Regions from separate parts of the Homo sapiens genome. Here region 2 is linked to region 1. The links come from fine-mapping of genetic effects on plasma protein levels. A gene starts in region 1. The other region holds a variant in brackets. All regions are shown on one strand. Distances are from middle to middle.

Region 1 (15,302 bases):
ATTCAAGGCTGGGGCAGGGACGAGGAGAGGGCAATGCTACAAGGCTGCACTGTTCCTGGGCAGAGGGAGGGGGAGAGCACGGTCCCACACACCCTGGCCCTCACAGCCTGCCTGTCACTCACAGCAACAGCAAACAAACCCTGGCCCCTCCACAGGCTGTGGGCCAGTTCCCAGCCTCCCAGGACAGCAGGACCTTCCCCCACCTTCCAGGGCCCCAGCCCCTGTAGGGGTGTCCTCCATGGACCCTCCACAAGCCCTCTGGCTTTCAGAGACGTGCTGGGCCAGGCCCTCCCTCAGCCTCTCCCCTGCTTCTCACTCCATGCAAACCTACGTTTCTGCCAGTCCCAGCAGAAGGACCCTGGCACGGGGAAACTGAGGCTCAGGGGTTCCACAGACCCCCAGGTGAGGAACAGGGGGAGGGCAGGGAGGGAGTGAAGGTACTATGGGAGGGTCTCCCAAGCTGGGCAGCATCCCTGCCCTGTCCCCTCTCCACTCACCTGTGGCCCGAGTTGCCTGACTAGGGGCTTTTATTGTCCCTTCTGCACATGGATGGGGTGAGGGGCCAGCTGGCAGTGCAAAGGTCCCAGGAGGACTCTGCTGAGTGGGGGTGTGGGGAGGTGTTGTGGGCATTCTGAGGCAGAAGCACCAGAGTCAGAACTCCACAGGGAAAGCCGGGCCAATTCCGCCCAGCCTCAGCCTGGAAGTGCCCCGATAATCCCTGACCACTGGCCCATGGTGCAGGTGAGGAAGACTGAGGCAGAGAGGCGACCTGTCACACCCAAGGTCACACCGCCAGCAGGTGGCTGAGCCAGGACCCAAATCCAGGTCACGGTTCTGCCACGGCAGGCCCTGCACGTGCCCCTCTGCCAGGTGGCGTCTAGGTGCTGATGGCCACCCATTCCCACCCCCGGCATGGGAGCTCACTTCCTCCTCACCTCAGTAGAGAAGAACAGGGAACAGTACCCCCTTTATAGATGGGAAGACTGAGGCTTAGAAAAAGAGACTGGCCAGCCCCACTGCTTCAGCTGCCCCTCTGCTAGTATGTTTCACCCTCACACAACCTACAAGGATAACCTGCTGGTCCCCACTCTATAGATGAGCCTCTGGTGGTGGCCAGGGGAGCAGGAGGTGTGGCCTGCCAATCCAAGCCCCAGCCCAGGGCCCTTGCCACAGTGCTAGTGGGCCACCCTTGCCCATCATGCAGCATGGCATCCATCTGCTCAGCACCCTACACAACACCGGAGGTAGGGGAGCCCACCACAGAACCCCTCACCAAGAAGGTCCTCACCATGGAGAAACTGAGGCACTGGAGGCGGGGCCTCTGCAGTCACGCTGGGTCACGTGCTCCAGTCAGCCAAGCTGCAGCGGCCACCAAGGGTGCCCAGGGTCTGGCCTGTTGGTCACAGTGTTGACCTCATGGCCTGAAATGGGTCTTCCCTGCCCAGACAGGTTCCAGCCCACCATCATCTATCTGCCTCAGCCCTGGTGGGTAGGGAGTGGCTGGGAGACCCTGCCCCTCACACCCTGGGCTTTGCGGTATTCAACGAGCCCCCAACACACATTCCAGGGCCTCTGCTCCAGATTAGGCCACAGCCTGTCTAGGCACACAAGGGGCACCCACACCCTGGAGGCAAAGAGACATGCCTATGTGCCCGCAGGCACACATGATCACGCGCACAGACACACGTGCAGATGCATACCAAGTTACACACACGCACACAAGCCCGAGGCGGGGACCCCCAGGACACGGAGGCAGGCAGGCAGAGGTGGGGCCCAGGATGTCTTGCCCCTGTCTGTGGGCCTGGCCTCCCCACTCAACAGACGAGCATGTGGGTGCGGGAGTGGTTATTGCGAAAGGGGCCCCAGCATGTGCCACCCGTGGAGACCACAGCAGGCATGCCGCGTGCATGCATGTGTGGCCGTGGGTGTGCAGGCGGGGGCGAGGACACAGATATGCACCCTCAGAGTCCGTGTGTGCACCCAGTGTTTGTGCATGTGCACACTGGGGCGGCGTTGGCTTGCATGTGCACCAGAGGTGTGCAAGTGTGCAGTCCGTGTAGACAAGTGCACGTGCAAGGAAACGTGTGTGCAGCCTGCGGCACCATGGACATCAGCAGGGCAGCCTGGGTGGGCACCTGGGGAGCACCCTCCAGGCGGGGCATGCCCAACTCACATGGAGCCCACCCTCCCTTGCCCGCACCGCGGGACCTCACAGCCGGTGGGGCGGGGGAGTCCCACGAGGGCTGCTAGGGAGGGGTTGCTGATTGCCCCACCGCCCCTGATTCCCCCAGCCAAGCCTCTCAATGTCCCTCGGGCTGCAGATGGCGGGCGTTGCTGCCTCCTCTCACCGCCCGCCCTGGAGGCAGCGCTGGGACAACCCTGTCCCCCACGCCCTCTACTGCCGCCAACGCCCCCATTCATCCCACTGTGGACTGACCTCGGAGAAACGGGAGGTTCTGAGCCCAGACCGTGAGGCTGGGGTGGAGGCGGCCCGACACCCCCACCCACCCTCGGTACCCACGTTTCTGCAAAAACCCGCTCGTTAACCCCTTGGTGGCCGGGGCGCTCCGAGGCCGGGCCCCGCCCTTCCAGCCCACGGCCCCCGCCCTCGACTTGGCCCAGCATCGGGGACCCTCGGACCGCCACCCTCGGCCCTGCCGAAGCCGTCAACTTTCCCGGGAAGCGGCAACTTTTCCTGCCGCCTCCGGCTCCGCCCTCCCGGGGCCGGGGCGCCAGCGGCCCCAGCCTGGCGCGGCACTGCGGTGGCTTTCCCTGCCGCCCGGCTACGCTTCCCTCGCCTCGGCAGCCCGGGACGGGCCCTGCGGCTCCGGGGAGGGGGCGAGCCGCCCCCCTCCGCGCCCCGCCGCCGGCCGGGCTCGGGTGCAGCGCGGACACTCACCTCCAGCGGACGCCCTCTTCATCGTAGGGGTTGGGCGGGGCGCGTCGGGGACTGAAAGTCGTTTCGGGGCGGGCGCCCGTCTCCCCGCGGCCGGGTCCGCATCCAGGCGCCGCCGCTACGGCCCGGCCCCGGCCCGGCCGCGGGACGAGGCTCGGCGCGCTCCGCTCCGCCCGGCTCTGGCTGGGCTCGGGCCGCGGGTGCGCAGGGCGCGCAGGGCGCACAGGGCGAGGGCGGCGGCGGCGCGGGGGTTGGGGCGTGGGCGGCGCGGCGGGCCGGGGCGCGCAGGCCGGGCCGCAGGAGGCGCTCAGCCCGCCCGGTGCACCGGCGCCGCGCGGTCCCAGACAAAGGCGGCGCATTCCTGAAGAGGCGGCGGCCCCTGCAGGCGGCGGAGGGGATGGCGGCCCGGGCCGGAGCCGGCCGGGGACGCGGGCCCGAGGGTGTGGCGGCCTAGGCTGGCCCGGTCCCCAAGCGGGCAAGGGCTTTGTCCCGAGGCCTAGGAATGGCCTCTGCCTGACCCACTCCCTTCCTGGCCTCACGAAACCCATGAATCCCCCGCCCCCTGCACAGAAGCCCCTTGCTGCAGCACGATCGCCCCCATTTTTCAGTAAGAAACAGGCTCAGGGCTTAAGAGAGTTCTGGGGGCCCTCCTGGGCCTTTGTGGCCCTCTCTGCACCATCCTAGAGAAGGGACCTAGGCCTGATGTTACCCGTAACCCTGCAGGGGTCCCCCACCTCTTCCCTTCTGCGGAATGGGGGCTCCAAACCCAGAAGACGCTCTCCGAGGTCACCTGCTTAGTATCCCCCCACTCTACCAAGCCAGCCCCCCACGGGCGGTGTGAGGCATGGGGCCAGAGAATCCAGTGACGCCCCTGCACACACCACACAGGGGTGCAGGTGTCCCTTCTCAATCTTCTGCTCGGGGCACCTACCGGGCCTCACCGATGAGCTCCTAAGTGCATCCCGGGGTCTTCAGACAACTGCCAGGCTGCCCCTGCACCTGGAGAAGTGCTGGGAGTCAGCTCAGCCGGGCTGGGTCCTCCCCAGGCCCACCCTGCATGAGAGGACCATGCAGATGAGGGTCTTGCAGGCCCACCTGGTGTCAGTCTGTAGGACCCTGACTCAAGGACGGAGTGGGCCAGCCTGATGCCTTGATGGCCCCCCTCAGAGCCCAGGTCCACTGATATGAAGCAGAGAGACCTGGTGACTGGGCACCCCTGTGCCCTCTGCCTGCCCCTGGCCATGGAGGTGGCCCTGAGGGAGATGAGCAGGGCGCAGGGCCGGTGACCTGCCTGCCTTGTGCAGAGGAAGTGAGGACCTCCCAGAGCCCTGGTGCTCCCATCTGATCCCAGTGGCAGGCAGCTTCGCAGGGTGGAGCCATGCTGGGTGGGCCCTCTGCCTGGTGTGGAGGCTGCACTGCCCACATGCCTCTGGCTGCCGCTCTGTGGCCCTCATCACTTTGGCCTGCTTTATCCCTATCACCCTTGTCCCAGCCTAGGCTTATGAGGGCATTGTGGAGTGCATGCCATTCCCAGCCACACAGAAGGTGAGGTGGGGCCCAGACACCCCCAGCCACTCTGTCCCCTGGCCTCCTGAAGGGGTGGGCTGTGCACACACTGCCACCTCCCCAGAGGGTGCTGGCTGCCGAGTGCCACCAGCTCAGCCCCTGAGGTGGCTCAACAGGTCCTCCCAGAGCCACACCAAGACGTCATCACCCATTGCACAGATAGGGAACCTCAGGCGAAGCTCACAGAGCCAGTGGGAGGCTGAGGCCTGACCCCCAGACAAGCATTCTTCTCCAGGGTCCCTGCACACAGCAGCCCCCAGGCTAGGAACTGAGCTCTCTCCACAGGGATGTATCAGACCCTAGATGAGTCACGTGGCACTGACCATCAGTCTGAGGACAGCGCTGGGGTGGACCAGGCTCCAGTCTCGGGCTGCTCTGTGCTTGCAGAAAGGCCTTGAGAGGACACTTGCTTGCTTACTCCGCAGGCGTCTCTTCAATTACCAGTGACCCAGAGCAGCCCACTATAGCTGAAGATTGTGACCCCACACCCTATCTCATAGGTTTAAAGCCCCTCCCACCCCTCCTGCCGCAGCCGAAGTGACCATTCTGGGGCATGGGATGGGCATGGGGTGAAATGGGGAGCAGGGGTGGCCCTGGAGGCTTCTGGCACCAGCACCCTCTCCAGCCACCAACCTGGCTGTTCCCGGTTGCTCTGCGCTGGGACCTGGGCCTCCACCTCCCCACAGGTCTCTGCATGGGAGCAGGGCTGAGGCCTGCAGAGGGAGCGCTGGGGGATGGGCTGGTTTCCTGTGTCCGCCACCTCGGTCAGCACGTTGGCCAGCACCCTCCCCACTGGAAGCTGGGCCCACTCCTGGGTGCTAGCTGGGATGGTTAGGCGTCGGCCAGCGCTGATAGGGAGTTATGGGGGTGCAGAGGCAGAGTTGAGCAGGGCTAGGCAGCCGGTGGGTCTGCTACCAGCAAGGCACAGCCCACTTCTCAGGCTGCGCATGTGGGAGGGTTTGGTAAGCCACATTTTTCAGGGTGTAGCCGGGTGAGGGGTAGCATGGGGAGTGGTGTACTCTTTGGGCAGGCGACCACGGAGCCATCACCCCCCAGGGCCCAACGGGCAAGAAGGGGAGCAGCTGACGGCTGGTGAGGGGCTAGCAGGGAGGGCTTGACAAGGGCTGGAGCCCCTGGTCAAGGGGCACAACCAGTTCTATCGGGTCACCTTGTGGGAGGAGCCAGGGACCCTGTGGGCAGAGCCTGGCCGTCTGCTGCCCGGAGTCTACACCAGTCAGTTCCTAGGAAGCCCCATCAGGGGTGCTGGGAGGACAGGCCATCTGTGCCCAGCTGATGCAAGCTCCCAGGCTTTCTGGACACGTGGCCCTGGGGATCAGGAGTGAGCTGGAGACTGCAGACAGCTGTGCCCTCAGGGCCACACAGACCTGTCACACCCTGCCTGGACTGGGTCAGCAGGGCCACACGGGCATCTGCCCGAATCGTTCCCCACCTCACACCCACCATGTGGGGCACATTCTTTGCCAGCTTCCCCAGCCCACCACCCCTCTACAGTGAGGCCAGGGGCTGTCTCACCTCCCACCCACACCCACACCCAAAATGTGGGGCTCAGCCTCCACGACCAGCATGCCGGTCATGAGGGCCCTGCCCAGCTGTGTGACCTCAGCCCAGTCCCTTGGCCTCGCTGAGCTTGCACAGCATGTGGACGAGGCAGACGCTAATGCCTCAGGTCCTGGTCAGCTGGTCACCATCCCTCCTTTGTTCACCTCGCCTGTCCCCTGAGAGGATCATGCAGGGTTTTCACTCAAAACTCCAGGACTGCCCATAGAAGCCAGCTTGAGATGAGGGGAACTTTCGCGGTGGCCTGTCTTGGGCTGACAGGGACACGGTTCAGCCTCCTTGGAAGGTCACTGCTTCCCAGGGCTTGGGAAGACTCATCTCCTGCCTGGAGAGATAGGCGTGCCATGGCTTTCCTTGGCATGCCTGTGCGGTACTCACGGACATCCAGGCCCTCAGTGTCTCCTGGGGAGGGATGGGGCAGCAAGGAAACTGGGTCTTTGCTCCACACATTCTGGGCCACTCCAGGCCAATGCAAGGAGAGACCAAGAAGGAAGCTAGAAGGTCATGTGGCAAGCACATGCCTGCTGCCCAAGTGTGTCAATGTGACTGACCTTCCCTGCACTCTGAGTGGGCGGCTGGGGATGTGGTCCCAGTGCCAGGGAGCTGGGGGGTGTTGGCCTGCCATCTGCTCTCACCATGGAGGGCGGCTGCATGCCCAAGGCCTAAGAGGACTCTGTGCCAGGCCTGCTGAGTGAGTCATCCCATTCAATCCTACAGTGTAGACACTACTACCACTACCCATTTTCCAGACCAGAGAAGGAGGTCTGGGGAGCTTAGGTGGACCCACATCTTGGCAGCCCCTTTCTGCCCTCTCTTTGTCCACAGCCTCCGCCTCCTCCAGAAGCCTCTCACCATCCCCCATCCCCGGGGCTGCAGAGGGTGTCCTGGCCTTCCCCTATCAGCTCTGCACCCCTGAGGACTCCCATCCCTAGGAGTCCCTCTGCCCAACTTTGGTGCATGTTAAGCCATAATTAATCTGCTTCCTCATCTCTTATTCATCAAAGCCACAGCAGCAGCAAAGGGGGCTGGCACAAGGAAGGGACCGACAACCAAACCCTGGCAGTGGCCCCAAGAATCCCACTGGGCCTGCCCATCTCCAAATGCCTCTGACCCTTCACTAGCGAGGGCCTCCTCCCACAGAATGGCATCCTGGATTGTGCCACACTAGGCAGGCCCCCTGACGGACCATGCGCACCTCCCACCACCTGGAGGCTGCTGGGGACCGTCAATGGGACGTATGCATTGCACAGTGATGGCCCTTACCTCTGCGTCCCCCAGCCCTGGACTGGATCCCTTGTGGCCCATCTCCAGGATGGGAGCCTGAACGGAGATGAAAGGACACTCGGCCAAGTGGGACATGCCAGGCTGGCACCTGGACCCTGGTCCGCCACTCTTCCTGGTGCCTAGAGGAAGGGGTGAGTCCCCAGGGCTCCTGGACCTTGAGATGAGCCTCGGGCCACTTGTGTTTGCCAGCAGATGGGCTCAGGGTCTTCTCTCAGTGGGCACAACCGAGTTGGTGGCCTCTCTCTGGGGAGGCCGGCTGGTGGGGGCTGGGGAGTAGGCGGCTTCTGGTCCCTGAAGGCCCAAATCTGGTGCAGGGGCAGAGCTCCGGAAGGCGGGGGTCCCTGGGCTGTGCCCAAGGCATCCGCTGTGGCTTCACGCCCCTCCCCCGCCCCTGCAGGGAGTGTGGATCCTTCTAGAGCCACCCACCTGGCAGTGACAGCTAAATTGGGAGCCGCTGTTCACACCAGGAGCCCAGCGGGCAGTCAAAACCGGGTCGGGGGGGAGGGGCACCCGCTGAAAACACCCACAAGCTCCCAGTGGGGCAGGGAAGGCAGGGAAGGCATGGTGATAGCTGTCAGCAGGAGTGGGTGGGGAGTGGAAGGCAGGGTAGACCGCCAAACCCATCTTGGGGCCATAGTGAGATGGCCCCTGGGATGCTTCGGCTGGCCAGTGCCCAGCCTTGCTCTTGTAGGAGCTCCCTGGGCCCCTGGGTTCCCCACTCTGGGCCACCACAATCCATGCAGCATGCAGGTTTGTTCCGTTTCCCAGATGGAGAGGCTGAGGGCTTACCACAGGGTTCCGTCAAGGACGCAAAAGGGCCAGCCTGACTCTGAGCTCAGTAGCCCCACCCTCCACAGCCTCCCTTGCCGCCTTCATCTGCTCACTTCCTCAGTCACTCAACAAACACTCTGGGAGGCAGACTGTAACACCCTGCATACCTCTGCTGGACCCCCATTCCACATATCCCCACTGGTTACAGGTGGGGAAACTGAGTGCCTGGGAGGCGGGCCTTGGCCTGAGTCCCCCAGTCAGTGATTCCAGGATAAAGGGCATAGCCATGCCATTTGGTCACTTGAAGCCCACAGGGGTGACTGGGAAGAGCCCACCTAGCACCCCACATTCTGCTAGGGTGACTCAGACCAAGTCCTTGGGGCTCTGCCCCCCAGCCAGTGGCTCTGCCTCTGAGAGCCATGGGACAGGGAGCTGTGCAGGGTGGGGCCAGCAGAGCCTGTGCCCCTGCCTGAGCTAGTCGTGATGGGGCCTGCCCTGACCCCTTCCCAGGCTCATGGGTGCGGAGCAGGGCGGGGCCTTACAGTGAGATGGGGGCCTCTGTGGGCAGTCCTGGAGGCCAGGCCCTGGGGCTGGGACTCACTGGCACAGGGCCTAAGTTTCCTCCTGTGTCCGCAGGCCTTATTGCCTGCAAGGGAGGTGGAGGGGCACAGGGGCGGTGCCCAGCGTGAGGAGGGGGCTCTGAGGAGGCTGCAGCAGCCGGCAGGCCTCTGAGACTGGGATATTTTTAGCCAGGATTCCTGCTGACGGTCCAGGCTGGCCGGGGTTTGCTGCCAGCCTTAGAGGCGCTTCTCCTAGTCTGTGTCCGGACATCTGGGGTCTGCTGGCCCCACCCACCCTCTGCTCAATGCCCCCGCCCCACTGGCCCATCCAGCCAGGCGAGGGGCTCCCAGGAGGCCGGCCATGGTGGGAGCAGAGCCTGGGGCCCTCGGGGTGTGGCTGAGAAGAGGCCACATGGGCTGCTGGGGGCTGCCTGTGTCCTGGGTCTCCAGCTCCCAGCTGCCACTCTTAGCCGACCCGCTTAAGGGGCAGGTTTCTGGAGGCTCCGGTTCATGCCCAGGCTCGAGTTCTGAACTGAGCATTCTCAGTCCGCTGCCTGCTGCCTGCTGGAACGGATGGCTCAGCAGAGCGGCCACAGCTTGGCTCCCTCCTGGGCACTCCTGCCTGCCCTTGCCGCTTAGGTGCTCTGGTCATCAGGCCTCTCTGGCTGGCTCTACCAAGGTGCATGTGTGCAGGGCCTGGGCTTGCAGGGCCTTGTGGCTCAGCCAGGACCACCTCCCTTCCCATGGGCAAGTGAGGACATCCAGAAAGAGGGTCCTCTGCCTCGGCCACTCCCTTGGGACACCCCTCCACCCCAAGGCCTCTCGTGGAAACAGAGTCCAGCACTCAGCGTCATGCCTATGCACTCCACCGGCAGGACTGGCTGAGTCCCGAGGAGCCAGGCCCTGGGGCACAGGCCAATCGGATGGAACCCAGATGAAAGCCCAGTGCTGGGACCCACGGCCCATTCTCTGGCCTGGCTGAAGCCTGATGGCTTGTTCCTTGAATGAATCAGGAGGCCCATCCAGAGCAATTGTGAAGTTCACATGAAAGAATGAACGTACGGAGAGAGATGGGCCATGTCGCATCCTGAAACGCCTTATATTCTAAGACCATGATAATTAACACAGACCCTGGACAGTCACACGATGGGAAAGAGTCCAGAAAGAGGCTCAAATGCAAATATGAGAAGAGGCAGGTCAAATCCAAGAGGAGAGATGGAATATTCAACAAATAATCCCACATATACAATCAACACTTGGCCTTAAGACAACGGAATTGACATATGGAGGAAACATTTGGATTCCTACCTCACTCCTTGACGCTAAAACAAGTTCCAAGTGGAACTAAGATTTAAAAAGTAAAAATGAAACCATAAAACTCCTAGAAGAAAGCATGGATGGCAAAAAACCAATCTTGAGTCACTCTAAGAATTATACAAAACCCAGAAGCCATGAAGTAAAAGATGGGTATATTCAACCTCGTGAAAATAAAAGGCAGATGCATGGAGAGAAAAAAACCACCATAAAATGATAACCAACAAAGGGTAAAAACATCGGCAACTCAGTTCACAAAGGGCCGTTTTTGGTTCTCAATACAAATCAGTAAGAAAAAGAGCAACAGCCCAAGAGAAAAATGGGCAAAGGCATGAAAGGAACCTCCCATCACCCCCTGCTGACCTTCACTCAGAGTGAGAAACATGCGGATCTAAGCTGCAGTGAGATGCTGCCCCTCACCCACAGGGATGGCAGCCGCATCAGGCTGGGGGTTCCCTAGGGGGGCTGCTTAGGGGCTCCCACAGGTCTGGCTGTTGGAGGGCAGGGAGAGGCCTGCGGGTCTGGTGGGGCCGGGGTGAGGCACTCACAGATATGTCTAGTGGGGGTGAGGAGGGGGACCGCCTGCAGGTACAGCTGGGGGTGTCAGGTCGCTGGGGATGGGGTGGAAGGAGAGGATACCCATTCAAAACAGGAAATATATATATTTTAAAGTAAAACAGGCTAAGTGCAGTGACTCACACCTGTGATCCCAGCAGAGCGGGGAGAATCCCTTGAGGCTAGAAGTTCGGGACTAGCCTGGGGAACATAGTGAGTCCCAGTCTCTATAAAAATTAAAAAATAAAATTATCTGGCTGTTACGATGCACGCCTGTAGTCTCCGCTACTTGGGAGCTGAGGCGGGAGGATCACGTTAGCCCAGGAGTTCGAGGCTGCAGTGAGCCATGATTGTGCCACTGCACTTCAGCCTGGGCAACAGAGCAAGACCCTCTAGAAAAATAATTAAAAAAAAATAAAAATAAATATAAAATAAAATAAAAACCAGCTGACATCCATCCTCTCCTTGCCACCACTGACATGGCCGTGGGCCGAGTTCTCATGGCCATCCCACCGCGAGTCCCCAAGCGCTCCTGATGCCTGCTCACCCTTCTTGTCTTTGTTAGCGCCCCGTTAGCAGAGGCCTGCTTAACTTGTCTCTGGTCTTGCTTCTCAGGAGCCGTGTCACATTCAACAGTGGCAGCACAGAGGCCCTGCTCAGCCCCAGTCCCTCACCCTAGGCCTCCACTGCCAGATGTGGTCCTGGTGGTCCTGCGGACTCAAGCTGTCCCCCCCTGCCCAACCTTCACAGGCCACCAGCAAGTCCCAGGCCTCCCACAGGCATGGCTCTGGGCAGTATCTTTACCTTCCCAGCCTCAGTTTCCCTGATGGTGAAACAGGGTGAGATCTACTTCCTAGCAGAGAATCCGGGGGAATGGAGGCCGTGGGAGGAAGAGGACTTGAGGAAAGGAGCATTCCTGAGGGGTCCCAGAGCGGGCTGGGGCTGACAGGACTGAGTTTGCAGGGCCTGGGGACATTCCCTGGGGAGGTGCTAAGATGCCGGTCAGCTAGAGCAGCGGGGAGTGATCCAGGATGGCTGCCCGGATGAGGGGCTGGGTCGCTGGTCCCTGAGTGCCAAGGTGGTCTGTCCATGTCTGCAGGAACACACCCACCCTGCTGCCTCCAGGAGGGGTGCTGGACAGGCCTGAGCTCCAGGATCATAGGAGGCAAGAGCCACTCTCACCAAAGAACAGCAAGTGTGCCTCCCCTGCCAGCAATCTGTCCGGTCCAGCCCCTGCCCAGCTATCTGGGGAAAAGGCCACCTTTTCAGTGGAGGCTGAGCTCAGGGCAGGAAGAGGTTGAGAGGGGAGAAATGGAGTGAGAACTGGAAGGTGAGAGGTGTGAGTGAGAGGTAGGGGTGTGAATTGGGGGTGAGATGTGGTAGGTGAGAGCGGCAGGTGAGAGGTAGGGATGAGAGGTGGGGGTGAGAAGTGGAGGTGGGCAGTCATGGTGATAGCTTGTGGGGTGAGAAGTGGAGGGTGAGAATTGGGGTGGGAGTTGGGGTGTCACCTCCCAAACCCTCTCACCCTCAGATTAAGAAGCCCCTCCTATGGGCCCTGGAGGAACAGGCCTTTGACCCACCCCAACCCCACTGGTGTCTTGGGCAGGGAGATCTCGAGGTGGGGGCCTCAGCTCCCCGTAGGACCGTCTAGCCCTGGACCACCTGACCACAGCTACAGTGGGACAAGGCCCCTGTTGCCTGTCTGCTGGGGGCCGAGCGTGGTATGGAGGAGCCAGCAGCCCCCGCCTTCATCACAGAGGAGGAATCCGAGGCCCAGGAGGGTGTCTCTGGCACCCAACACGTGAGACCCTTTGAAAATCCCCCGAGTGTGTGGGGGGCTGGGATGAACATCTGGGGGCGGCAGCAGCAGGTGGCCCACCTGGCCAAACACACTCCTGTGTCCCCTTGTTTTTGGCAATTTCAATGACCAAAATCAGATCCTGGTATGGAGAAAAAGACATCGGTAAGGACGAAGGAAATGTGAACACTGCATGGACGATGGCTGATAATAGTGTGCCGCTATTGGCTCAGCAACTCTAACCTACCAATGCCAGATGCTCACAACGGTGAAACTGGTGTGTGGTAGATGCGATCTCTCTGTACTGTCTTCTCAATTTTTCAGCAAAGATAAAACTGTTCTAAAGTTGAAAAGTTTATTAAAAAAAAAAAAAGAAAAAAGACGGGCTTATTAGCAAAAATCTGAGATAGAACCAAGCAGTAGGGCCCAGCCCACCCCCCGCTCAGGGCGCACCAGCAGTACCCCTCTCTCAGGGACATGGCCAGGCCTGGGCCACTCCGAAGAGCTCTTCCTGGTGCTGGGGGGCCTGGTGGGTTTATTCCACCTGTCAGTCTCACTGCAAAGTGTGGCAGTGGAGTCTGAGTTAGGCTGACTCTTACCCTGCCAAGGACACCCCTGCACTCAGGACCCAGCCCCGGCCCCCTTGCCCTGTGGGCTGGAGGCGACCCTGTGTGCAGATGGCAGATGGAGGGGCATGGTGCTGTTGCTCTCAGGTCAGGGGCAGCAGCCTCAGCCCTGACCAGCCCTCTCCTGCGTGGTTGTGGTTGGGTCTCCTGGTCTCTGGCCTCCTTTCCATTCCAACCTGTAGAAAACAGTGTGGTGGGGGATGCTCGGCCTGCAGATCAGACAGGCCGGGGTCAAAGCCCCGAACTACCACCTGAACTAGTCCTGGCCGAGTGGCGCTGATGCTCTAGGCCGAGGGCCCCCTTGACAGAACAGCCATCATCTAGCTCCGCCGCAGGGTAGGGGAGGTGGCAGTGTGGGCCGCAGCCCTCGGCTGAAGCGGGGGCCAAGCGGGGCTCTGCCTGGTGCAGGGGGTTTCCTCTATGGGGCAGGGGCTCCCAAATTAGCCCTGGTGACATCTGGAGCTCACCTCTGGGGGCTCTGGGGGCTGAGAGAGCAGGCGGGGCCCAGTTCTATCAATCATCTGCCTTGTTCCTGGGGGATCGCGGTCAGTCCCAGCCTCCCCACAAGTCCTGGGGCGGGGCAGGCCTGCTGGAAACCCAAGATGCAGAGAAGAGCGCCAAGCACCTGAGACAGGGCTCTGAGCACGGAAGGCAAGGACGCCTCCCTCAGCCTCAGCTGGGGAGCCAGTGGCCCTGCATGCACTTTCTCCCGTCTGGGGAGCCTGAGCCCTGACCCAGTCCCGAGGCCCATGTGTGCACAAAAGCCCCCTGCTTTCTCACCCAGGACACTGGCGATCAGTGGGTAGGCGAGCCGGAGCCCAGCTGCTGCGCTCCCTTCCCTGCCAGGACCGGGCCAGCTGCATCCTCATGCCTGGGTTTCAGGGCTTCTCGGGGGATGTGATGGCACTGCCTGAGGATGTGGGATCCTTCCACTGAAAAGGGCCACACGGCTGTCCCCAGCACCCTTCCAGAAGGGACAACCCACTCCTGGGAGGTCTTAATGTAGACATCGAGGTCCCCCGAGCTTCCTCCATGGCCTGGCCACTTCACAACCATATTTCTTTATGTTCCACGCGCCTTGCCTGCTCCACGGCCAGGACCAGGGCCACCATCTTTGCAGCCGGTGAAGGGACAGCTGCCGTGGGCTGGGCTGCTGAGGCAGGACAGGGGTCCGGGCCAGGGAGGGGTGGATGGAGGCCAAGGATGGGCCCCTTGGAGACAGCCTTGGGGTGCAGCCGGCTCTGCCACCTCTCCCTGGCTTCCTTCCCTCCAACCTGTGACTCCTGGGAAGTCCCTGATGGGCCAGCCACTTGGGGCCGGGAAGTAACTGTGGTGTGTGGTGGTCACCCTCACCAGAGTTCATGGGGTGGAGCAAGGGGGAAGAATCTCCCCCAAAATCAGGTGTCTTGTTCCCAGGCCCAGCACAGAGACCTGGCCCCCAGACATCTCTGGACATTTGTTAAGAGTGGACAACTGCTTCCATTACACAGGAGAGGAAACCGAGGCTCTAAGGGGTCCCAGACTTGCCTGGCTGCCACAGTGAGCAGGCAACAAATACCAAGTGGCTGCCGCAATGGGGTAGGTGGGAGGCAGTGGCTGAACCAGAAAGTGCTGCTGTCGATTCTGCTGGTTGCATGAGTCTTAGGAGATCATCAAAGGGCAGATTGTGGGGAGATAAAAAGTATGAGTGGGGAACAGGATTGGGGGGAGCAGAAGAGCCTCAAAGACCCTGCGACATTCTCAACGTCTCGATGGTGACTCAGAGATAGCTCCAACCCGCATGGCGGGCAGAGTGCGGAGGGGACGGCTTTGTGGCTGGATTAGTCATCCCGGTGCAGCTCACCCCAAATCCCGGCTTCCAGCCCTGGGCCGTCCATGCTGGGATGGAGGAAGGGCAGCCTCTCCGCAGGGCCACGTCCTGGAGCCTGATAACCTGGCCAGCACACTGTGCAAATGGTGCATGAGACAGGGAGTTGGCTCTGTGTTCCCCACGGTGGCCAAGGGACCAGCTGTGCCTCAGTTTCCCTTATTCTATCAAACTTTGAAGAAGGTCCCGTAAAAGCGCATCTGTTTCCAGGGTAGGGGCCAGAGTCAGCCACCCACACCAGAGTGAGAATTGGTGGGTGCCCTAGCCCTGGCAGGATCTGGCATTTTGCTGGACGGAGAGAGGAGGCAGCACCCACTGGGGCTCGGGCAACCATCCCGGCTACCCCCGCCCCGGCCCGCCAGGAGAGGAGGGAAGCCTTGAAGTGCCAGGCCTTTGAATCGCCCATCTCCATGGCAACGCGTGGGCACAAAGGGCCGGGCCGGCGAGCAGGCGGCGGCTGCGCAAGCTGGAAGGAGGAAGGGAATCT
Region 2 (15,395 bases), 86 kb before region 1:
ACTCAGTGGGAGGGGCAGGGTCACCTGCCTCCTGAGCACCCCATCCCCAGGAGGGAGGGACCAGGTGTGACCCACTTCACAGGGAGGGAAGCCTTGGCTGTCAGAGGGGACACTGCGTCTCTCACTGGGAGGACCTCCCGGCCTGGGCTTGAGGCCCACCTGGATCTGTGCAAACGTAGATGTGGGTAGGGTGGGGCAGGGGAGGGGAGGTGGGCAGGGGAGGTGGAGTGGGCTGGCTGTCAGCTCAGGAGTGGGGGTCGGGGAACCTGGGCCACAGAGCGGATCCTGTCCCACCTTGACCCTGGTATGGTTGAGTCGGCGGCTAAGCCAGGCCCCGTGGTCCTTCACCCAGGGAGAGCCTGTGCCAGGCCAGGCACTGCCAGGCCAGCACACAGCCTTGACTGAGCGCCTCCCCGTCTCAAGTTGTCTCCTGGATGCCCGGCTGGCTGCTCATGGGGACAGGGGCAGGATGGGACAGCGAGAAGAGGTGGGCTCCCCCAGCCCCAGTGACCCTCCAGGCCAGGGATTGGCTTCTCTCCCTGCAGAGATCGCCCTTCCCTGCCCCTCTGCCCAGCTGCCCTGGGACTTGTGTCCCAGCCCTGCCCAGCATTCATCCTGGGTGATCTGCACGTGGGCATGGCGCCTCACCGGGTCAGGGTGGTGTCCAGGTGAGCAGGCGGAGGACTCTCCTCACTGCCCAGCAGTGTCCTGCTCCCCCAGCTGCTCTGACAGCCAAACTGGTCCCCAGCTGGGGCATCTCACGCCCAGACCTGCTGCCCGTTGGTGCAGTGCAGCCCCCGCCAATGCAGACACTGTACCTCGGTCTCCGGGACCCCCTCTGCCCCTGCAATTCGACGCTCTGCTCCTGCCCTGCTGGGATCCCACGTCCCTGGACCCTCCCTATGGCAGTCTCGCCCCGCGACCCTGCTACAGGCCTGCCCTGCCACCCCCGGGCACACTCCCTCATCCAGAGTCTGTGCAGTCACATGTGGACCCCTGAGGCCGGCCTGCGGCTCCCTGCTCACGGGCGGCTAAAAGGGGGCTTTCCAGTCACGCCCTGCCCTGGCCTTCTGCCTAAGGCCCTGGCCCTCATGGGCCAGGCATGGTCCTCAGGCCCTTGGCTCTGCCAAGGCTCTGAGACCCCACCCTAGAGAGACCCTGGCCCACCCAGCCTGGCCCTGCAGCAGTGCCCCAAGTGCCCCCGAGCCCGGCCTGGCTGCTGCCAGGGTGACCACCAGGGGCAGTAGTCAGATAGAGGGCGGTGGCCGGGCCCAGTGTGTCTGGGTGACCGCAGGGCCTGAAGGTGTGGTGGCCCACCCGGGTCAGAGTGAAACTGAACTCCTAGGTCAGGGTCGGGTCCTCCCAGGGTCGTGTCCTCTGGAACTTGGGGCGAGTCACTACGCCTCAGTGTCATCGTGGGCAGAACCTTCCACATGTGGCATTGAAATCTTTCAAATTGAATAGGAAAAGCCCCACGTTTTCTGAGCCCTATATATAGACCAGTACTGTCCTAAGTGTATTCTAGGGAAAGACAGTGGCCAGCCCTGTAGCTCAGTTATTTCTGTTTAAAGTGTGAACGGGCTGGGTGCAGTGCTTGAAAATCAAGCATGAAGTGAAACCCAGTGGGCCGTGCATGGCTCTGACACCCATGAGTCATTCACACGATGCCACTTGCTCATTGCTGTCCCACCCCAAATGCAGCACTGGTGGGCGAGACCCTCTGGGCATATTACCTGCGGGATGTGGCTCCAGCGCCTCACTTCCAGCTCACTGCTGCCTCAAACTCCTGGACTCAAGGAATCCTCCTGCCTCAGCCTTCTGAATAGCTGGGACTACAGGCATGTGCCGCCACACCCGGTGAATTTTTTTTTTGTAGAGAGGGGTTCTCTCTATGTTGCCCAGGCTGGTCTCAAATTCCTGTGCTCAAGCGATCCTCCCACCTTGGCCTCCCAAAGTGCTGGGATTACAGGTGTGAGCCACTGCACCCAGCCTCTTCACCCTTTAAACAGAAACAACAACTGAACATACAGGGCAGACCAGTGTCTGTCCCCAGTGCCTGTGCTGGGGGTGACTTTCCAGCTGGGGCTCAGCATTGCGAGTGGGAAGACCTCCTGGGGCCAACATGGCTTGGATTGTGAGGGCACGTGGGTCGCCGTGGGGCCAGAGTCCAGCAGTGGCAGAGCTGCACAGCAGTGGGGAGGGGCAGGGCAGGGCAGGGAGAGGGCCCCGGCTGGCCCGGCTGGCCCAGCCTGCCCAGGGCTGCACGGTTTCCATCCCTGTCCCCAGCTGCAGTGGGACACCTGCCATGGGGGAGGCTGGGGGAGGCCTGGGGTGGCGCCTTGGGCTCTCAGCCAGGAGTTCGCTCTCTCCAGGTCAGGCTGGCAGAGCAGCCCCAGGGCCCCTGCACCCCCACTGCCCATGCCCACCTTGGGCTCTCTGATGCCCGGCAGGGCCTCTGGGCTTCTCCCTCCCAAGCTTGGGTGGCAACGCTGGCATTTGGAGCCTGGGGAGCTGCTGACAGTGCTGGTCCTGCCCGCGAAGGAGGCGGTGCCAGGCTGTTTGGAAATGTCAGGCTGATGGGTGGTGGCACTGCCCAGCACCCCACCCCCGCTCCCACCCCAAGAGGCTGGACACGGGCTGGGGCCCCGGTGATGGAGCCAGGCCGGGAGCCAGGAGATGCTGCTGAGCAGGGATAGCTGGCTGAGGGCTCCTGGGCGGCAGGGGATCCGAGGCTGATGGACAAGGGGCCTCTCCTTGCCACCGCAGCTGCGGCCTTGGTGGGCCGGTCGATGCGGAAGAGTGATGGTGCACGTGGGGCCGTGGGGTGTCGGAGGGAGGTTTATTGATGTCGGCTGATTTCCCTGGGGGCCCCTTGCTGGCAGCAGCCACCATGCTCCCCGAGAGCTAACCGTATCAGGCCGGAAGGGTGGTGGGCAGTGTGATGGATGGACTCCGGCTGTCGGCTGGCTGGGCCTGGATGGAGCCCCGAGATGGGCACACTGGGCCGTGACAAGAGTGCCGTGGGGTCCCTGGGGGAGCCCAAAGAGGCCTCTGAGAGGGTCTGTGCTGGGAGGTAGACCTGAGAGAGGGGAGACACCATCCCAGGGTGGGCACAGGCATGGGGCAGAGGGCACGTGACGCCAACCTAGGGCCCCAGGGGGTGGGACGGAGGGGCCTGGTTCTGGGGCATTGGGAGAGGCCTGGGACTCTGGACCTGGTCTGTCTTTCTTGTCCCCAGTGTGAGCACCAGCCCTTGCAGCTGAGCCCTGGGAGGCGCCTCCTGCCCACGCAGCAAAGCTCAGAGCTCTGTGGCCTCCTCTGGGCTCCTGCACAGCGGGTTTGCTCCCAGCTGCTCCCCTGACACGGACACCTTCAAGGGCCACGTGACTGCCATCCCCAGGCCTTGGCCCTCGATGAGGAAGGGCCCTTCTCAACCTGTGGCTCTGAAATAGGTCTCATGATGGTGCCAGTTTAATGACAGGAGCAGTGGCTAATCCAGTGGTCATTATTGCATGGGCTGTCATGCCCTTCTCTATCCGTGCTCCCTGAAGAGGCGAGGGTCCACTGCCGGCTGCCACACAGAGAAGCATGGCCACAGAAGGAGGCTCCTCTGCTCTGAGTGGGATGTTGGCTCCTCGGGCCACACTGGGCTGGAGGACAAGGGGAGGCAGGGGTGGGAGGGCCCTGGGCTGGGGTGGATGGGGTGGGCCTCACAGATGGCATGGCCCTGTGGACAGCGAGTGGCTTTTCCTCCCCAGGTCTCGTCCTGAGCCCTGCTCCTCCTCCTGGCCTCCCCTGGCCCCACACCTCTCCCACTGGCTTCCTTTCCTGGCCTCTTTCTCTCTGCTCCTTGTCTCCATCTCTCATTCCTCTGGGCCTTGCTTCACGGAGTCACCAGCCCGTGTGACAATGTCCACTTTCCCTGGCCTCATGTCTCCAACTTAGTGTGGGACCTGCCTTTCCAGGCTCTTTGGCCACATGAGATCATGGAAACACATGGCTGCTGTACCCACGCTGACCTGGCTCAGCCCTGGCTCATGATGCTTCCTGTGCACCCTGGTCCCATCTGTACCTCAGTTTACCCATCTGCCACACAGGGCTGAGGGCATCTGCCTTGTGTGTGGCGGTCAGGCTGGCCCAGTGACCGCCGAGCCATTTTGGCTTCCTCAGGTCTGGCCACTGTGAAGGACATGGCTGTGCCCCCCGTCTGCCCTGTGTGGCCCTGGGCACATTAACCCCTTCCATAAGCCTGGTCTGCAGACGAGCGCCCACCGGGCTGGCAGTGCCTGAAGAGTCTCGGGCGACGTCCACTCACCTCCCAATCTGGTCCCAGCTCTGCTCAAACTCAGACTGGAGGATCCCCCAGGGCAGTGACTCCAGTTCAGAGTCTAGCTGACTGCGTCCCTGGCAGCCAGGCACGGCCCAAGGTCCAGAGCTGGAGACTGACCCCCCTGTGTAGGACCTCTGGGAAGTCCCCAGGACCCAAGACGGCTCAGGGCTAGTGAGGTAGGGACAGGTGGCTATTTCAAGCCCCCAGCGGGCTTCCTGCCTGGGGCACCTGGGCACAGTGGAGAAAGATGGCTCCCGGCAGAACACATGCCCCCATCCTTCGGGGCCAGATGCCTTGGGTTGGGCACGGAGCAGGGCCCCCAGCAGACACAGAGGCCAGGGTGGGAAGGGCCAGGGCACCGCGCAGTCTCTTGCCCTGTGTCAGGGCTCCAGGCCTATGGTGGGGCTGGGCCTACCCACCCTGTCACTTTCCCCATACGGCTTTGGGGTCCCAGGGGTTCAGGGGCCCCTCCTGCCTGACCCAGCCTTAACTTTTTGTTGTTTCTTCTCATTACAAAAGAAGCATGTTCAAAAGAACCCCACAGTCCTCCATGAACCCCACAGTACCCCGTGAACTCCAGAGTCCTCCATGAACCCTACAGACTCTCATGCACCCCACAGTCCCCCATGAACCACATAGTCCCCTATGTACCCCACAAGCTCCCATGTACCCTATAGTCCCCGATGCACCCCACAGTCCCCTATGTACCCCACAAGCCCCCATGCATCCCACAGGCCCTTATGTACCCCACAGGCCCCCATGCACCCCACAGTCCCACATGCACCCCACAGGCTCCCATGAACCCCACAGGCCCCTGTGCACCCCACAGTCCCACATGCACCCCACAGGCCCCCATGAACCCCACAGGCCCCCGTGCACCCCACAGTCCCCTATGTACCCCACAGGCCCCCATGTACCCCACAGTCCCCTATGTACCTACCCCACAGGCCCCCATGCACCGCACAGGCCCCCATGAACCCCACAGTCCCTCACAGCCCCCATGCGGGGAAAGGGCCTCACTTCTGGCCGCTGACTGACTTGCCAGTTTCCTGGAGTTCTTTATCCAACTTTCAAGGTTGCTGAGTCCCGGGAACACCTCAGAAACCTCACGAAACAGTGACAGGTTGTCAATCAAGCAGCAAGGTTGACATGTTTGAGCAACGTTCAGCCTGGGAGGCGCTGGGGCCAATTAGCAGAGACTCCCAGGTAGCAGAGCCCCCGGGCTCATGGCTGGGGGGTGGATGGTCAGCCCTGACGCTGCTGCCCCCACCCGAGGATTTCTCCCCAGCCATGGACTTGGGGCTGAGGGATTCCTGTACCCTCCCGGCCACCTGGACAGGGTCCCCGCCGTGGCCCGGCCTAGGGCGTTGGCTCAGACCACACCTGCCCAAGGATGGAGCCTGACACCCAGGAAGCAGCTCCTTGCAGCGCCCTGGGCCTCCGTGGGGCCCCTCTTGGCAGAGTGACCTGGGGACCAACCCCCTTCTGTGAGGCAGGTGAGGATGCTGCCTTGTGGGCTGAAGGCCAAGGGGAAGAGGCATACTGGGGCCACTCAGGCTGAGCAGTGGTCACAGCGGCCACCCCTCCCTCTCCAAGGCTCTGGCGACCACTGTTCTGTTTAGCCCCTACCCCTCCCCACCTTTTAAAAAGACAGGGTCTCGCTCTGTCACCCAGGCTGGAGTGCAGTGACACAATCAGAGCTCACTGCAGCCTCCAACTCCTGGGCTCAAGCGATCCTCTTGCTTAAGCCTCCGAGTAGCTGGGACAACAGGTGTGTGCCACCATGCTCAGATAATTTTTTTAAAATTATTTTTTGTAGAGATGGCGGTCTCACTTTGTTCCTCAGGCTGGTCTCAAACTCCTGGCCTCAGGCAATCCTCCCTTCTTGGCCTCCCAAAGCCCTGGGATTATGGGAGCCAGGTTCCCAAACACTCTCTGCTCTTCCCTCCACCTGGCATCTCCCTCCCCAAAGCTCTGCCCCATCCTGAAGTCCCCACTGCAGATGCTGCCCCTCCCAGAAGGTAGCTGGGCATGGGCTCTGCAGCTGCAGAGTTATGGACTGGGCCTCCCTGGGCAGCTTCCTGGGAGCTGCACCATGCACGGGTCACGGGACCCTCCTGGGTAGGTTGAACTGGGAGGCGACAGAGACCCTTCTAAAGTCCCTATGCCGGGTGCTGGGCTGTAGTCACATGGTGCCCTCCCCAGGAATCCCTGAGGGGTGGGTGCGTCTCTCTCAGCAGCACCAGCAAGGACCAGCGGGGAGGGGTGAGCATCTTTGTTCTGTCCAAGAGCCTCTTTGGAGCACGAGCACTTGCCACATGCAGGAGAGAGCCATGTTCACTTTCCTTTTATGGCTGAGTTTGAGATGTCTGGATAGAGAGTTATCAGCCAAGGCACTGATAAGGTCTGCGGGGGGAATATACTGTAAAGGGCTGAGCGTGGAGTGGGGGCTACCTCTCCTGCTCGGGCTGGTGTTGGGGGTTGGGGTGGGCTGGGTGAAGCTGCCACTCCTGGCCTGGATATATGGAGCCCTGGGCAGTCCTGCCTGTCCCATGGCTTTGCTGGACACAACAAGAACTGCCAGATGTCATTTGTGTGGGAATCATTTTGCTGTTTGAGCGAAGTTGGATTTGTTAGTGTGCTCACCAGTGTGGATGGATGAGGTCTGACCAGGAGGCTGCCTGTTGTCTGTCTTTCACAGAGGGCCCTCCACACCCAGGGTAGAGCTGGGGAGAAGGAGTCCTGGGGAAATACTGAGTTAAACAAGGCTGATGTATCCTCTGCAGGACTTCTCAGTGCCTTTAGCATGGCGGGTGTAGGTGAGTCTAAGAGATGGCCAGGTAGCCTAGGTGTGGATATCACCAGGCTAGGGCTGCTGTCTGTCTCCTCTGCTCACGCTCCTGTGCAGGGAGGGACTTGAGGGTGGGCCTGGGGAAACTGTGGAAAGTAGGAGTCTCTGTCCCCAGACACTGTCTCTGAACTGGGGCCAAGATTCAGTCATTTCATGTCCCCACTAGGCAGTGCTTACAGATGTTGCCCAGTATCAGCTGCATTGATTAAAGGAAGAGCTTTCTGACCATCAGGTGGGGGCGCTCTCCTGGTGAGTGGGGCTGGGAGGCAGAGCCCTGTCCTCCGCGGTGTGACTGGGACGTAATCCCCTCCTGGGGCTGAGTGGAGCAGGGGCTTGCGCCTCCCGCAGGCCTAGCTGTGTGGGATCTCATGGCACTCTGCTTTTATTCTGTTTGCTCCAATACCTTCTGCTTGCCACCTGCGATGCTTATTTTCCATTTCCAGTGGTGCTGTAAGACTTCCTTTCAAAATATAATCACTTAAGTTAAAAAAGCCCATTCGAAGAAAGCCCTCGAGTAAACAATAGTGGAGCAGGTGGGCAGGTGGAGCTGGCCCTTGGCCGGTGTGTGGGCTGGGGGCAAGTGGGAAGGGACAACGTGGGAAGGAAAGGGGAGCAGGGGGTGTGGGGACCCTCCCTGGGAAACTCCCAGCCCGCCCTGGCCTCTGTTACTGCCTGGCCCTGCTGAGCTCCCTGGGCTGCTGTCTGGTGGCCAACACTGGCGTTGGCTGCCCACATGCCATGGGGTCTGCACACAGCAGGGGCTGGGGGACAGC[G/A]TCACAGGAGGAGGAAGGCCACCTGTCACAGGAGAAGGAAGGGCACACAGAGGCTTGTCTGAGCCCCACGTGAGGATTAACAGAGGGGATGCATTGCAGTAAAGAGCACGAAGCTGCTGTGACCTTTGCCTCTGACCGCCCCCCTTGCAGGGCCACGCCTGCACGTAGCCTCTGGGCAGGTGCCATGGGGTCTGCCAAGGCTGGCATTGGCTGCCCAGATGCTGTCCTGCCCTGAGGTTCCATAGTCCTCCGGCCACTGTGGCCTCACACTGTGTCCAGCTATGCTTTTTATTTACCTGTTAACCTCCCAGCATACTTATTCATGATAACAGTGACAGGGAATGGGGCGAAAGTCTGAAGTGTCCTTCACCAGCAAGGGGCTGGTGGAAAAGTGGGACTCCTGTCTGAGGCCACTCTGGGTGGTGTCTGTGTCCCAGGACTCTACAGCCAAACCCAATGCAGCTGGGGGCCTTCCATCCACAGACCCACATGAGCAGTGGTAAGGACCTGCTATATTGAGCCAGCTCCTCACACACGCCCTCTTCCCAGAGGGTAAACTGAGGCCCAGGATGTTGCCTCTTGCCTGAGGCTGCATGGCTGGGTGGAGCCAGGCCCTGACCTCTTTGCTTCTTCACCTGCCCAGGGCAGGTGTTTGGATGTTGAGTCGACTGATGCCCCAGGGCGCCAGGCCCTCCTTCCATCTCACGGTCCCTGCCCCTGAGGCCCGTGTGTTGGGGCTGGGTGGAGGTGGCCCTGTCTCCTTTCCAGGTGAGTGGTGCGCACCCTGGTGAGCAAGGACCCCAGGCCCTGGCTGCAGGGCCTCCCTGTGGCTGGAGGTGTCTTCCACACGGCCAGTGTCCGGCACGAGCACTCTGGGGTCGGACACTTGAGATGGGCTGGAAGGAGGGGGCATAGAGCCTTGCACAGACAGGGGCAGCTCAGGCCTGGGTTTGAATCCTGACCTAGGCACCCTGTGGTGAGGACAGCCACAGGCTGAGGACACTGGTGTCCAGCATGTGCCCAGCTGTCACCTCCACCCTGGGTTTGGCATGGGGCTGGCAGCAGGCCCAGGAGGGATGGGAGTCAGAGTGTCAGGGAAGCAGTGGGAACTCGGGACACTCTGCTGCTCCATGGGAACAGCATTGGCCCTGTGGTGTGGGCAGCCTCAGCAACTGGGCAGGGGCTGTCAGAGCCCAGGGGATGCTCCCAGAAAGTGGGATGGGAGCCCAGAGCCCACAGCCCCTGATATCACTCAGCCTGGGAGCAGGCCCACTGCCTCCACCGTGCAGACGAGGAAACTGAGGAGGGCCCTTGGGTCCCCTGCCCAGGCCTCACAGAGAGCAGGTGACAGCTGGAGCCACCCCAGGCTTGTCCACCCCCCTGAAGGGATCCCCAGGTGCCCACCCTCTTCCTGCCATCTGGGGGCATGACTCCTACTGCTGACTTGAGAGTGAAGCTACCGCCACCGCCTCCCTCCACACCTGGGCCAGCCTGGGCCATGCCAGGGGCATGCCTGCTTCTGGCCCCATGGGCCTACTGGTCTTGACCATTAAAAAGCATGTGTTGGGGCTGGGCGCGGTGGCTCACACCTGTAATCCCAGCATTTTGGGAGGCCGAGGCAGGCAGATCATTTGAGTTCAGGAATTTGAGACCAGCCTGGCCAATAGGAAGAAACCCCGTCTTTACTAAAAATACAAAAATTAGCTGGGCCTGGTGCCTCCCACCTGTAGTCCAGCTACTTGGGAGGTTGAGGCAGGAGAATCGCTTGAACCTGGGAGGTGGAGGTTGCAGTGAGCCGAGACTGCGCCATTGCACTCCAGCCTGGGCGACAAAGTGAGACTCTGTCTCAAACAAACAAACAAACAAACAAACAAAAAAGCACGTATTGGGACTACAGTCAATGATAATTTATTGTGCATTTAAAAATAACTAAAAGAGGCTGGGCACAGTGGCTCACGCCTGTAATCCCAGCGCTTTGGGAGGCCGAGGTGGGCGGATCATGAGGTCATGAGAACGAGACCAACCTGGCTAACACAGTGAAACCCTGTCTCTACTAAAAAAAAAAAAAAAAAAAAAAAAAAAAAAAAAAAAAATTAGCTAGGCTTGGTGGCAGGCACCTGTAGTCCCAGCTACTCCAGAGGCTGAGGCAGGAGAATGGTGTGAACCTGGGAGATAGAGCTTGCAGTGAGCCAAGATGGAGCCACTGCACTCCAGTCTGGGCGACAGAGCAAGACTCCATCTCAAAAAAACAACAAAAAACAAACAGACAGAAAACTAAAAGAGTATAATTGGGGTGTTTGTAACACAAAGAAATGATGAATGCTTGAGATAATGGACACCCCATTTCCCCTGATGTGACACTAACCATTGTATGCCTGTATCAACATATCTCATGTACCCCGTATCTCATGTACCCCATAGATATACCCACCTACTATGGTCCCACAGAAAAGGCATGTATTGGGGCCAGGCCCAATGGCTCACACCTATAATCCCAGCACTGGTTTGGGAGGCCGAGGCAGGAGGATCACTTGAGGCCAGGAGTTCAAAACCAGCCTGGACAACATAGCGAGACCCCCATCTCTACCAAAAACAAACAAAACAAAAAAACTTAGCCAGGTATTGTGGTCTGCACCTATAGTCCCAGCTACTTGGGAGGCTGAGGCAGGATTGTTTAAGTCCAGGAGTTTGAGGCCACAGTGAGGTATGGTTACACCATGGGTGACAGAGCAAGACTATTTCTCTAAAAAACAAACAAAAAACAAAAACAAAACACAAAAAAGCATGTGTTTTCCTGTTCTCCCACCACCCCACGGCAAAGACAGTACTGGCTATTGACACAAAAGGTGTGAAACGCCCACATGCTAAGGAAGACAGAAGCCCCCAGAATCCAACCTGGGGGTGTTTCAGAAGTGCTGAAAGGGAACAGTGTGGTCCCTTTAAATGATACGAAAGAGAGGAAGGGGGCTGGGCGCGGTGGCTCACGCCTGCAATCCCAGCACTTTGGGAGCCTGAGGCGGGCGGATCACCTGACGTCAGGAGTTCGAGACCAGCCTGGCCAACATGGTGAAACCCTGTCTCTAATAAAAATATGAAAATTAGCCGGGCGTGGTGGTGGACTCCTGTAATCCCAGCTACTTGGGAGGCTGAGGCAGGAGAATTGCTTGAACCTGGGAGGCAGAAGTTGCAGTGAGCCGAGATCAGGCCATTGCACTCCAGCCTGGGCAACAGGGCAAGTCTCCATCTCAAAAGAGGGGAAGGAAAGTGCTGGGTAGAGGAAGGCATGGTCCCTGGCTAGGGTTCCACCCCCATGGACCTAGGTGAGGACAGGCATTTCCTGCCCACATGTTGTGGCATTTCCCAAGACTACCCGGGCCTGCCATGCTCCATCTTGTGCCTATAAAAACCCCTGAGACCCTAGTAGGCAGATACTCTAGCGGCTGGACATTGAGAGGAGTGGATCAGTGGAAGAACGCACAAGTGGCTGGACGTCAAGCGGAATCCACAGACAGGCACTGGCAGGCCTGGCATTTGTGAAGCCGGCTGCGGCAGAATGATGTGGAGTTTGGCTGGGGCAGTCGTAGGAGAGCTCAGGCCGCCCAGGGGAAAATCATCTCCCTTCTGGCTCCCCCATCTGCTGAGAGCTACTTCCATTCAATAAAACCTTGCACTCATTCTCCAAGCCCACGTGTGGTCAGATTTACACAAGGCAAGAACCCCAGGATCCAGAAAGCCCTCTGTCCTTGTGATAAGGCAGGGGTCTAGTTGAGCTGGTTAACACAAGCTGCCTATAGATGGCTAAACTAAAAGCACCCTGTAACACGCCCAGTGGGGCTTCACGAGCTGTCAACATCCACCCCTAGACACTGCCGTGGGGTCAACACCCCACAACTTGCCCGTCTGTATGCTCCCCCAGAGGTTTGAGCAGCAGGGCACCGAAGAAGTGAGCCACACCCCCATTGCATGCCCTGCGAAGGGGACAAAGGAACTTTTCCTGTTTCAGGGGAATGGTCCTCACTGCCTCCTCCAGATTTTCTGCCCTGAGTTGTGAGGACAGCACAGCTTGGGCTCTGTCCACAGCTTTTACTGGGAGCCTGAGGCTCCGTCACTCACTCGGCTGCTTTTTCCTGTGCTGGATGAAGCCCAGGAGCTGGCTGTGCAGGTGTGTCTGGGATTTCATGGGCATAGATGACTCCAGGACAGCTCCTTAAACACCAAGCTCAAGCAGGTATTGCCAGCTAAATGAGGTCAATTCCTGGCAGTGGATCTCAGGGCGCCGGCCTTGGACCCCACCTGCTTGCCCACCCCCAGCAGGCAGAGACCTTTCTAGAAGGTCACAGATGCTGCTGCGGGATGGATCGGGTCCCAACCCTGGCTGGGAGTGATGCCCGACAAGCTGCTGTAATTCTCAATTCTGCTCCGGAGGCCTTGGAGATGCTGCAGGCGGGCAGGTGGGGTTGGGGGTCAGCGTCACAGGAGGGGAAGGCCACCCATGGGGGCACATAGGGGCTAGTGTGAGCCCTGCATGAGGATTAACAGGGCATGCATTGCAATACAGAGCACGAAGCTGCTGTGACCTTCCCCTCTGATCGCTGTCACAGGGCCTAGCCTGCACGTAGCCTCCTGGGCAGGCACACCCCTGGACCCCTCCCTGGTGCTCTGCTGGAGGCCACGCTGGGCTCTGGAATCTTACTGCACAGAGCTCCTGGAGACCCACCCTCAACCCTTGGGCCCCCTCTTCCTTCCTGGGTCCTGGAGGGGGCTGTTAGGGGGCATGAGGCCACGCAGCCCTTGAGCACCTACTGTGTGCAAGGGCCTGGCGTTTGTGAAGCAGGCTGCGGCCATCCTGGGTGGGAGTCAGGGAATGGGGGTCCCGGAAGTGCTGGCTTTTCTGGTGGCTGTGGGGGATCAGGGGGCCTTGCTGTGTATCTGTGAGCTGAGCCATCCTCTGAGGGGCTGAGCGCTGGCAGGAACCTATCACGTTTCCCAGGGGCAGGGTTGGGCATGAGAAGCCCTATCCTGCCTCTCAGCTAGGCCATGTTTCATACCCCACAGATGCTTTGGAGGTGACAGATCTGGGTCAAGACTGGCCTTCCTGGTGACCAGCCTTCAGATGGACACTGGGCGGCAGGTGTTCCTGGGCTGCCATGGCTGGTCTCCTGTGCTGGTCCCCAGAGCAGCCTTCCTCTCCCCTCCCCAGACACCCCATCCTCTGCCGAGGCCTGTGAGCACCTGCTGTGTGCCCACCTTTTGCTTAAACCCCAGGACGGCCTTACCCAGATGGGGAGCCTTGGTTGGATTGAAGGGGCTTGCTGGAGGTGCAGGGGGAGGGGAGGTCAGAGCCCACATGCATCCTGAGCTCCCTCATCTTCCACACCCCATGCTCATCCCCCCAACCTGGCCCCGATGCTATCAGCCCTTAGCTGGGGGAGGGCGGACCCCGGGGACCTCAGAGGCAGGGCTCCTGCAAGCACTTTGCTGCACATGTCTCTGTTCCTGAAAATGCCCCAACCCCACCAGGGCAGCAGGCAGCAGGGTCTGTGGGAAAGTCAGGAGCCCCGCTGATGGTCCTGAGGGGCCACCCCAGCCTCAGGAGGAGGACCTGCCCTTCTCAGGGCCCTGCTGTTGCTCCTTCAGCTCGCCTCCTCCATGCTGGCCTCCGGGCTGCTCACACGAGGATTAGAGGCAGGAATGAAGAAAACCAAAGTCAGACCACTACCAGGACCAGGGTACAAGAGACCAGGCCTGGACACCACTTATGGCTGGGGGCCTTGGGCTGGTCAGCGCCTCCCCCTCAAGGCATATACACAGTGGATCGGTAAAGGCTGTCCCATCTGGGGCTGTGTCAGGCCTCTGTGGGAGGAGGCATGTGGCGGGCCCAGCTCAGTTGATGGATTCAGACCCATGCATTTGGCCAGCCCTAGTCAGGGAACATTGCAGCCACTGCCTGCCCAGCACTGGGCAGGAGGAAGTGTCCTTTCTAAGAGTGGAGGGAGCTCCTGCTCTCAGGCCTCAGAAACGAGGTGCTAAGGGGGCTTTCAGGCAGCAGCCTCAGGCAGGAGGAGCTCCCGTGCCATGCGAATGGCTTTGCCCAGACACCGGGTGGCTCAGGCAGGTCACTCTGCCTTCTGTGTCCTCCTCCTTGGTGGGCTGGTGGGCTGAGCCAGGAGTCGGGCTTGGGGCCTGTTCCAGGCTTGCAGGCAGGAACAGGCCCGGGACACCCCAGAGACAATATTGATGCTGTTTCTGCCCAAACAAATGCCAGCTACTAATTCCGGTCTCTGTTGGAAACACAGAAATCAATGCTCACAGAACAGGGAGGCTGGCCCTCGAGGAGCAGTGTGGTGTTGGGTCCCCAGGCAGTGATTACGACAGGACAGGCAGGCAGGAGAACAGAGCTCTCGACCTTAGACACGTCCCATGCGGCCCTCACCTGGCGACCTGGACTCGGCAGCACGTTGGGGGTCAGAACAGTGGGTTCTCAGGGACCTGGCCTCGGGGGGCACCCGTCATCCCTCAGCACCCTCCCCTGCAAAAGGGAAGCAGGGCCTGGACATGACCCCCAACCCTGGCTCCTGCCACATTCCCCTGACTTTATTTACCACCCGAGAGACTCATAAATAATAGTTGAGGGGTCAGTGAGCGAATGAACTAGCCAAAAAACCAGCTGGGGAATGCGTGTGCAGGTGGAGAGAATGGGCGCTGGGCCTGCCTGGGCACAGGTTCACGGGCCTCTGGATGCAGCTCACCCCGTGGGAGCCCACAGCCCTGCAGGCCGGGCAGCCTGAGGGCCAGGACAGCCCCACCCTTCTCTCAAGGTGCTGGTCCAGGGCCTGTTTCCCCATCCATGTAGCATTCTTGATCTCTGGGTCCTACCACGTCCCTTGGATCTCAGGCTCCCAGCCAGGAGGGGCTCCCACCACCATCTCATGACCTTCTGAAACCCCAGCGCTGGGTGTGCACCTTCTTGCCAGGCTCCATGGGCAGCAAGCACCCGCCCCTGGCCTGCTGGGCACTGCACCCAGGAGGTGCCCAGTACTTGCTGGGACAGCTGTCTTCTGCTATGTCCTGGGCTCGTGTCCTGCCTGCAGCTTCCGGGCTGGGGAGCTTGGGCAAGGCTCTTGGCCTCCCCCACCCCCACCTTGGTATCCCTCAACCCATCCCCCTGGACATGGGGTTGGTGCCTCTATTGGAGGAGGTGGTAGGTCAGGCAGCCTCTGGCCCGCAAAGTCGGCCCTGGGTCCACCAGCCGCCCCTCTGCCCTGCCTTTCCCGGGTCCCGCCTTCCCTTTCTAGGGCTATGGCTGCTTGTGGACAAGCGTCTCACGGGTAGGAAACGGGACCTCTGAGAGCTCCTGGCCTGGCTGGGTCCTCAGCATGTGGGTCTGTGAGCCAGGTCCACGCCAGGCAAGGGTTTTTACCTCTCTGAGCCTCGGTTTCCT

Direction of the effects. Alleles are on the strand shown, and positions count from the first base shown. The strength of an association depends on the size of the effect and on how common the allele is.
In carriers of allele G in region 2, the plasma level of the protein whose gene starts at base 3,147 in region 1 tends to be higher than with A alone (strong association).

Evidence for each region. A credible set is the group of variants that fine-mapping cannot tell apart. PIP is the posterior inclusion probability: the model's chance that the variant is causal. The UK Biobank Pharma Proteomics Project read protein levels with antibody pairs (Olink). The fine-mapping took linkage between variants from a reference panel, not from the people measured, so its PIPs are less certain.
Region 2: its variant is the best candidate, but not a certain one, in a credible set for the plasma level of the RTN4R protein (UK Biobank, PIP 0.71).

What each region holds. Positions count from the first base shown.
Region 1 is chr22:20,265,172-20,280,473 of GRCh38, forward strand. RTN4R (reticulon 4 receptor) reads right to left here and starts at 3,147. Exons shown (of 2, transcript NM_023004.6): 1 at 2,900-3,147. The coding sequence starts at 2,921. RefSeq lists enhancers at 1,991-2,679, 9,493-9,993 and silencers at 2,891-3,050, 3,141-3,300, 3,351-3,410.
Region 2 is chr22:20,179,235-20,194,629 of GRCh38, forward strand. No RefSeq gene overlaps it. Among named protein-coding and RNA genes, the nearest start is that of LINC02891, 18 kb to the right of the region's middle. RefSeq lists a silencer at 1-143, an enhancer at 7,412-7,949 and a cis regulatory region at 8,743-9,446. The variant G/A (reference allele first, on the strand shown) is at 7,955.